2 linked regions of the Homo sapiens genome follow. The gene in region 2 interacts genetically with the main gene of each other region. Each region holds a gene or a part of one and is shown on either strand. Other genes may lie near its edges. The genes, in order: SMARCB1 and PPP1CB.

The links.
Region 1: of PPP1CB (region 2) and SMARCB1, changing one enhances a phenotype caused by changing the other (phenotypic enhancement), as found in Homo sapiens cells (one study listed by BioGRID).

What each region holds. Positions count from the first base shown.
Region 1 is NC_000022.11:23,789,966-23,793,606, forward strand, and holds part of SMARCB1 (SWI/SNF-related matrix-associated actin-dependent regulator of chromatin subfamily B member 1), read left to right. Parts: intron 1-1,790; coding exon 1,791-1,929; intron 1,930-3,593; coding exon 3,594-3,641.
Region 2 is NC_000002.12:28,754,607-28,758,730, forward strand, and holds part of PPP1CB (serine/threonine-protein phosphatase PP1-beta catalytic subunit), read left to right. Parts: intron 1-4,124. UniProt on the Homo sapiens protein: Protein phosphatase that associates with over 200 regulatory proteins to form highly specific holoenzymes which dephosphorylate hundreds of biological targets.

The sequences.
Region 1 (3,641 bases), on a different chromosome or scaffold from region 2:
TGCCATTAACAGACAGCTGTATTTACCAAGCCGGAGTCATGGAGCTTTGAGGACCCTAACAGATCCCCAAGTCCAGCACCTTGATTTTATATTCAGGAAACCTGGGTCCCAAGAGGGTGAAGGCTGGTTCAGAGGAAAGCCAGGAAGGCAAGCCCAGTTTCCTAAGTTCTGAAGGGGCTTTGGGGGGCATCTAGGAGACTCAGAGCCCTGCAGGGCCTGCAAGGTAGTCATAGGGGGGAGTATTGTCAATTTCTTTTAAAAAACCTAATGGAAACTCTACATTTACCATGATACTGGATGATACTGACACACAAGCCAAATAACATAGAGGGGTCTGTGCCCTCTATGTGGAAAGCGAGTGACTTGCTGTGTCTGCTCTTCTCTCAGCGTTCAGTAGCCCTGGTTGTTGATTACAGTCACTGCTGAAAATGGAGAAACATTTTATTTAATACTATGCCTGGGTCTCACACCTATAATCCTAGCACTTTGGGAGGCCCAGGCAGGAGAATCACTTGAACCCAGGAGTTTAAGACCAGCCTGGGCAACATAGTGAGACTCTTGTCTCTACAGATTTTTATTTTTATTTTTTTTAATTAGGCCGGGTATGTGGCTCACACCCGTAATCCCAGCACTTTGGGAGGCCGAGGTGGGCAGATCGCTTGAGCCCAGGAGTTTGAGACCAGCCTGGGCAACATGGTGAAACTCCGTCTCTACAAAAAATACAAAAATTAGCCGGTTGTGGTGGCAAGCAACTATAGTCCCAGCTACTCAGGAGGCTGAGGCAGGAGGATCGCTTGAGCCGAGGAGTTCGAGGCTGCAGTGAGCTATGATCGATCGCACCACTGCAATCGAGCCTGGGTGACAGAGCGAGACCCTGTCTCAAAAATAATAATAAAAATTAAAAATAAATTTAAAAATGCAAAATATATACTATGTTGCGTAGATAAAATGGGAAACATAATAGAAGTGGTCCTTCATGGGGGTGAAGTTCAGAGTTGCTGAGCATTTGGCAGATGAGTAAAGGGTACCCAGAAAATGGGAAGTGATCCCAGGTTACAGATGGAGCCAGCACCTGGCACCCAGTCTATTGGCCATCCCCTGCAATGTGACTCCGAAGTGATCATACTTGAAAAGTCAACGAGACAATAGGGTACCCTCATAAAAACTTTAGGTCTAGATTTATTTTCCTTAAGGAAGTCACACTTTCAGTATTTGCTACAAGCAAACTGAAGCCATTGTTTGAGTCAGTGATGATTTATATAGCAGTCTGGTGATTGCCTTGTAAACCTTTTGGAAAATTCCTTTGGTATCCCTGGTTTGGGTTTTGTTACTAAACAAAGCAACACAGGCCATGGGGGAAATTATCTGGCATCTGTCTAAAATTAAAAGACCTTTTTGGTGTTTATTACATTGTAAAGATATCAAAGTCTTGTCCTTAAGATAAAAGAAGGTCAAGGAGGCCTTGCATTTCTGGAAAGTGCCAGAGATCCTTAGTCCAAAATCAAAATCACCACGAACTTCTTGCTAAGCTCTGGGGGCCTCCCACTCAGGCATCTGCCCAGGCCTTTCGGAACTTGGTTCTGTTGTCAGGATGCACATATGCAGGCCAGATGTGCACTGCTGGTGAACCCTTCATATCAGCAGAATGTGTTTTAATGCTGCCGAAAGCGTGGCGCCTGGGGGCCACCTCAAGGCCTGTTTGTCTGTTGCTTGATGCAGTCTGCGCCAGGACCCTCCCCTTCCCTGTGGTGCTGCGACCCTTATAATGAGCCTTCTTGCTTTACTCATAGGTGGGAAACTACCTCCGTATGTTCCGAGGTTCTCTGTACAAGAGATACCCCTCACTCTGGAGGCGACTAGCCACTGTGGAAGAGAGGAAGAAAATAGTTGCATCGTCACATGGTAAAAAAACAAAACCTAACACTAAGGGTGCGTCTTCACGAGGGTTTGTAAACCTGTTTCAAAACCACTCGCTTATGTCATGAAGATAAAACGTTTTCACTCCAGAGTGTCTTCACTGCAGCCTTGGCCTTAGTCGGGCAGGGAGCATCCCGGGGTGGGCCGCCCTGTGAGCACTCCAGGCAAGGAAGTGGCTCCAGGGAGCCATTGGTGGTCCACTGTCAGTTATTTCCAGCAGGGCCATTGGGTATGTGAGCGGGCCGGGGCCAGGACACTAGCAGGTGCTGTGAAGACATGTTGGTCTCAAAACGTTTTAGGAATGCTGCGATGCTCTGCCATCTGTCGTGGGTGTGTCGCCATAATCATCTTCCATGCAGCCCAAGTGGCGGGTGGTGGTCCCAGCTCCCACTCCCCTCTGGGGCTTTCACTGCTTGCTTCCTGGAGCACATCCATCCCATAGCACTTCATCCTGGCAGCCAGTGTGCTAGAGCCCATGTGCATGTCCCTGCTCCTGGTGGCCTGCGTGTGCCTGGGGCTTGCTAGGTACACTAGTGAAACTAGTGGGCTTTGGGTCACGGCAGCTCTGTGCAGGGTGAAAGGGTGCTCTTCAGACACTCTGGGGGCTCTGTGGGAGACACTCCCATGGAGACATTTGGGTGTGGACACAGCATGTCCTTGGGCAGGTGGCAAAACTGCTTCCCACGTGGCAATGGCGCCTTGTAGAGAGCTGCCCTGGGCCTGGGTGTGTCTGTGAGCATGTGCGCGATGCTTCGTAGTCTGCCCTGTTTGTTTGTGTCTGTAGGTGCTGCTGTGGTTTTGTCCACTGCGGGAAAGTAGTGGTTCTTTTAATGCAGGAGCCGGAGCTTCTTTTTGATCTGCTGCTATGACATTTCCACTCACTTGCTTAAAACAGTTTCCTTTTTGTTCCCCCTCCTCCCCTAGCAGAGCATCAGTCGCTAACACAGTGAGTCCCCAGCTTTGCTTCCCCCTCCGCAAGTCCCTGGGCTAAGTCTTGGGAGATACCTTCCCCATAAGCGATTGATTTCTCCAGGAGAAGCCAGACTGGGCCCACAGACAGGTAGCTCTTGACGGAGATTCCCCGGAAGAGCTAGGGGTCGAGCTGCCTAGAATCTGTCCTGCTTCCCAGGCAGCACGTGTGGACCGGCTCGGGGATAGAAATTCGTGTTTGGTGTGAAGCAGCTCTTTCCAACTCTCTGGGCTCTTGTTTTAAAAGAAAAGTATTCTTCATCTTCCATTCCATCTCCCCACCTTGCATCGTGTTGTGGATTGTGGTGGTGTCAGACCTCTTCCCACTGGGGTGTTACTCTGGGAGCTTTCTTTTCCCCTGAGTGAGGACCAAGAGAATATGTTCTGGAGTCGAGTGTCCCCGCTGGTCGTGCTGTATTGTAGTTGCTGGTGCTGCCCTGAGCACTTCCCTCTGCCCCGAGCCAGTGCTCCTGGGGCAGATTAGTCCAAATCAGTCCCATTGGAGGCTCTACCCAGCAGGACTTGTAAGTAAAGCACTCAGTCCAGATTGCCCTTTTGGAAGAGGCCAGCATTCAGCAGTAGTAAGTTTGACACCTTGCTTTTCCCACCTCCCGCATGCGAGGACCTTGATGTGCTGCATCCACTTGGCTGGCTGCTGTGTGCCACCGCCACCAGCAGAGTGACCCAGTGATGTTTGTCTGTTACAGATCACGGATACACGACTCTAGCCACCAGTGTGACCCTGTTAAAAGCCT
Region 2 (4,124 bases):
TAAATATTCTAGGTTTTTCAGCTCCTTCCCAGATCCAGACCTGTTGAAAGACTTGTCCAGAGCAGACTTGAATTTTCTAGTAAATAATTATTTTTAATCTTCAAAGAAAATTTTGTCCACCTGGATTTTCAGTGATATTAGATGCTAGTTAGTGATATTTTGTAAAGCTGCCTAGCAAGAATAACTATGGTTAGTGTTTTTAGTGTCAAATGAACGTGTAAGTAAAAATTTGGCAAGAATTTCTCTGCATTAGGGGAAAACATTCAGCAGGACCTGATCTCATTTTAAAATGCTGATTGTAGCCCCACAACATATTCCTGATTGTTTTTTCTTTTTTACTGTATTAAATCGCAGATCAGCTATACACACTTCTGGTGACTACATTTTATGAGTTGCTTTTTGTTTTTCTTTTTTAGGTGGGCGTATTATTGATAAGTTTTTTTTGTTTTTTGTTTTTTTGAGACGGAGTTTTGCGCTTGTCACCCAGGCTGGAGTGCGGTGGGGTGATGTTGGCTCACTGCAACCTCTGCCCCTGCAGGTCCAAGCGATTATTCTGCCTCAGCTTCCCAAGTAGCTGGGACTACAGCATGCCACCACGCCCCGGCTAATTTTGTATTTTTAGTAGTTTCACCATGTTGGCCTGGCTGGTCTCGAACTTTCCATCCTCAAGTGATCCACCCGCCTCGGCCTCCCAAAGTGCTGGGATTACAGGCATGTGCCACCGCGCCTGACCTTGATATGATATTTTCAAAGAGTCCTTTAGGTCATTTTAATACAAACATGCCATTTAATGTAAAACAGAAATATTGATTTTATTATTTGGACGGTGCATATTCTTTCGGTATGTTTTCTTGGATTAACTTTTGCTTAGAACTAAAAACCAAAGACTTCTACTTTATCCCCTGTAGTGACCCTGTTGGCCACATTCTTGTGGCTTACCATAGTGTTTTGATCATTTAAATTGAAGCTAGTTTGTATGAGTATTCTGGAAAATCCGGTAAAAGCTTCTTACTTAGATGAGTGGTTCTCAAAGAGGGGTGGGAAATGGGAGTATAGCAGAATCATCTGGGGAACTTCATTCAAACTATAAGTGCTAAGTTTATTTTGGAGGAAGTGAAGTGGAATGAGTAGAATCTAATGCATTTGGGAGGAGGTTAGTATGGAAAACTGCTGCTGGGTGAATAAGAGTGCCAGCTCTGTTCCCAACCACAGTCTTGATCCAGGTATTTAAAAACTGGGATGTGCCAGTTGATATAGTATGTCTATTATGTGTCATATATGTGATAATATGAAACTGTTTAGAATTTGCTTTTTCCTGATTATGAAAGGGCAGCATTCTTTCAAGAAGTCCCCTGTAATTCCACAATCCAGAGATAACCGTTGTTGAAATTTTGATATATTTTTGTTTAAAGATACTTAACATACTTTGTAAAATTCACATGCTTTACATCATTAGAATATTCTTTACATAGCTTTATGAGTTAATTTTTCATGTAGTATTACATCATGAACATTTTCCCTTGTCATTGAAATGTCTTCAAAAATACCGAAAAGCGATTTGCTGTGTGATAGAAAAGTTTTTCTTAAAGTATTTTTTAACATATTACCACGAAGCTGAACTTGACTATTACAATATGAGTTGTAGAATATTAGCACTGTGTAAAGTTCCATAGCAAAATGTGATTGTGTTACATTTTTGGCCCACTTACAGTTTTATGAAAATCGTGGGATGTGTTTGTACCTGTTTTGTTTTTTAAATTCATTTTTCATTTAACTTTGACCTGTCAGATGTCTGAATTTGTGACACTGCTTGTGATCTCTTAGTGCGTATCTCCCTTTTCTTTCTTGTGAAACAGGTATAGTACTCTTAAGATTTAGTTAGGCTGACAGACTACACTTTTAACTTTTCCTATTCAAGACAGGCTGGAATGCAGTGGCTTGATCATGGCTCACTGCAGCCTCGACTTCCTGGTCTCAATCGATCCTTCTGCCTCAACCTCCCTAGTGGATGGGACCACAGGCACATGACACCTTGGCTGGCTAATTTTTTTTATTTTGGTAGAGACGGGGTCTCCCTATGTTGGTTGCCCAGTCTGGTCTTGAACCCTTGTGCTCAAGCAATCCTCCAGCCTTGGCTTCCCAAAGTGTTGGGATTACAGGTGCGAGGTGCTGCGCCCAGCCTGTAGTGTCCTTTTGAAGGTTAAAAAAAATGAATGGATTTGAAAAATGAAATCGATTAATGAAAGCATATTAAAGCCCTCCATTTTAAAATGACAGCTTTATCCAGATATAATTCACATACCATACAGTTTGCCTATTTAGAGGATATGATTTTTAGTATACTATAGAGTTGTGCAGCCATCACCACAGTGAACTGTATAATATTTTCAAACACATATACCCCCCAAAAAACCCTGTTCCCGGTAGCAGACACCCCATTTCTCTCCATTCCCTCCCGGCCCCCACTAATCTACTTTTTTTTGTCTCTTAGATTTGCCTATTCTGGACGTTTCATGCAAGTGAAATCATACAATATGTTGTCTTTTGTGACTGGTTTCTTTTAATGTTTTTAACATTCATCTTTGTTGTAGTATGTATCAGTACTTTATTCCTTTTATGGCTGAATAATATTCCATTGTATGTATACACCACATTTTTAATTCATTCATCAGTTGATGGACATTTTGTTTTCTTTCGGCTATTGTGAATACTTGTAGTGCTGCTATCAACATTTGTGTAGAAGTTTTTTTTTGTGGGCATATACTTTCAATTCCGTTGGGTATATAGCTGGGAGTGAGATTTCTAGGTCATATGGTAGCCCTATGTTTAACTTTTTGATGAGCTGCCAGGTTGTTTAAGGCCTCTTTACTGATTAAATTGTTTAATTCTGACCCAGCAACCTAAAGGTTAGGTGGTTGGAAAGAAGTGTCAGTTGTTGCCGACAACCTCCACTTCTGTAGGGAAGGTGTTTTGTGTGGATGTGCAGCTAGACTTGTTAGAAAAAAGAGCATGTTGGGGAGTGGGGGAGATCACCCGAGGAATATTTTATCTCCTTGATTCTTCTGGATGAGATACTAGAGGAGACATAAGGTCGTGGCATATTTTTTAACTGATTCAGAGATTAGGTGTTTGTTTTCTCTGAATTAAGTTCAGCAAGTAAGGGAAACTGACAGTTTGAAGAAGTAGCCCAGAGGTGTTTTTATTTTGCTATCTGAATGCAGACCTGGAGCTTTTCTGGTAAATATCTAAATCCAAGATGAAGATTCGTTGGGATTTAATACATTATTTAAATTGAGTCTAGAGACAAAGCCACATTAAGAGTCAGGATTAGTGGGGAAGATAGTTGCATCTAGTAGGTCTTTTTCTTCCTTATTCTCCACGTTTATTACTTTTAAAAGAGTATACATTCCAATGCCATGCATTTTTAATTTTTTTTAATTAATTTTTTTTTTTTTTGGAGGCAGGGTCTGGCTCTGTCACCCGGTTGGAGTGCAGTGGCATGAACATGGCTCACCTGCAGCCTCAACCTTCTGGGCTCAAGTGATCCTTCTACCTCAGCCTCACAAGTAGCTGGGACCACAGGCATGCACCACTAATTAAAAAAAATTGGTAGACACAGAATCTTACTTTGTTGCCCAGGCCAGTCTCAGAGTTCTGGGATTACAGGCACCCAGCCCCATTTTCAAACATTTCTAACAGGTAAAGTAATACAGGTATGAAGGAATGTTAAGATTCTTAGAAATACTGACTTAAATTCTGTTATGTATTTCTGAAAGGTTATTCTCGAATGTTGGTGGCATATAGGGAGGCAAGGGGAAGAAATAGTTTGTAAATGTCAGTAGGTTTAGCAGTGGTGTGGTAGATGGGGATTCCCAGTGGAGTCTTCTAGGATTTGTGATTGGATACAGATTGATACCCTTAGGCAGCAGCCACTGCTTCTAGCAGCTTTAAATAGCCATTTCAAGGCTTATTCAAGTATAAATAACCAGTAGCCAGTTTTTTCCTGATTTGATAGAGGAAGTCAGTCCTTGGTCTAGATGGGTACTTGTCATACAGTAGGAAAAAGGGCGGGGGCAGTTGTCCTTTATTCTGCCTCTGCACTATTCACATGTGGAGCACAGTGA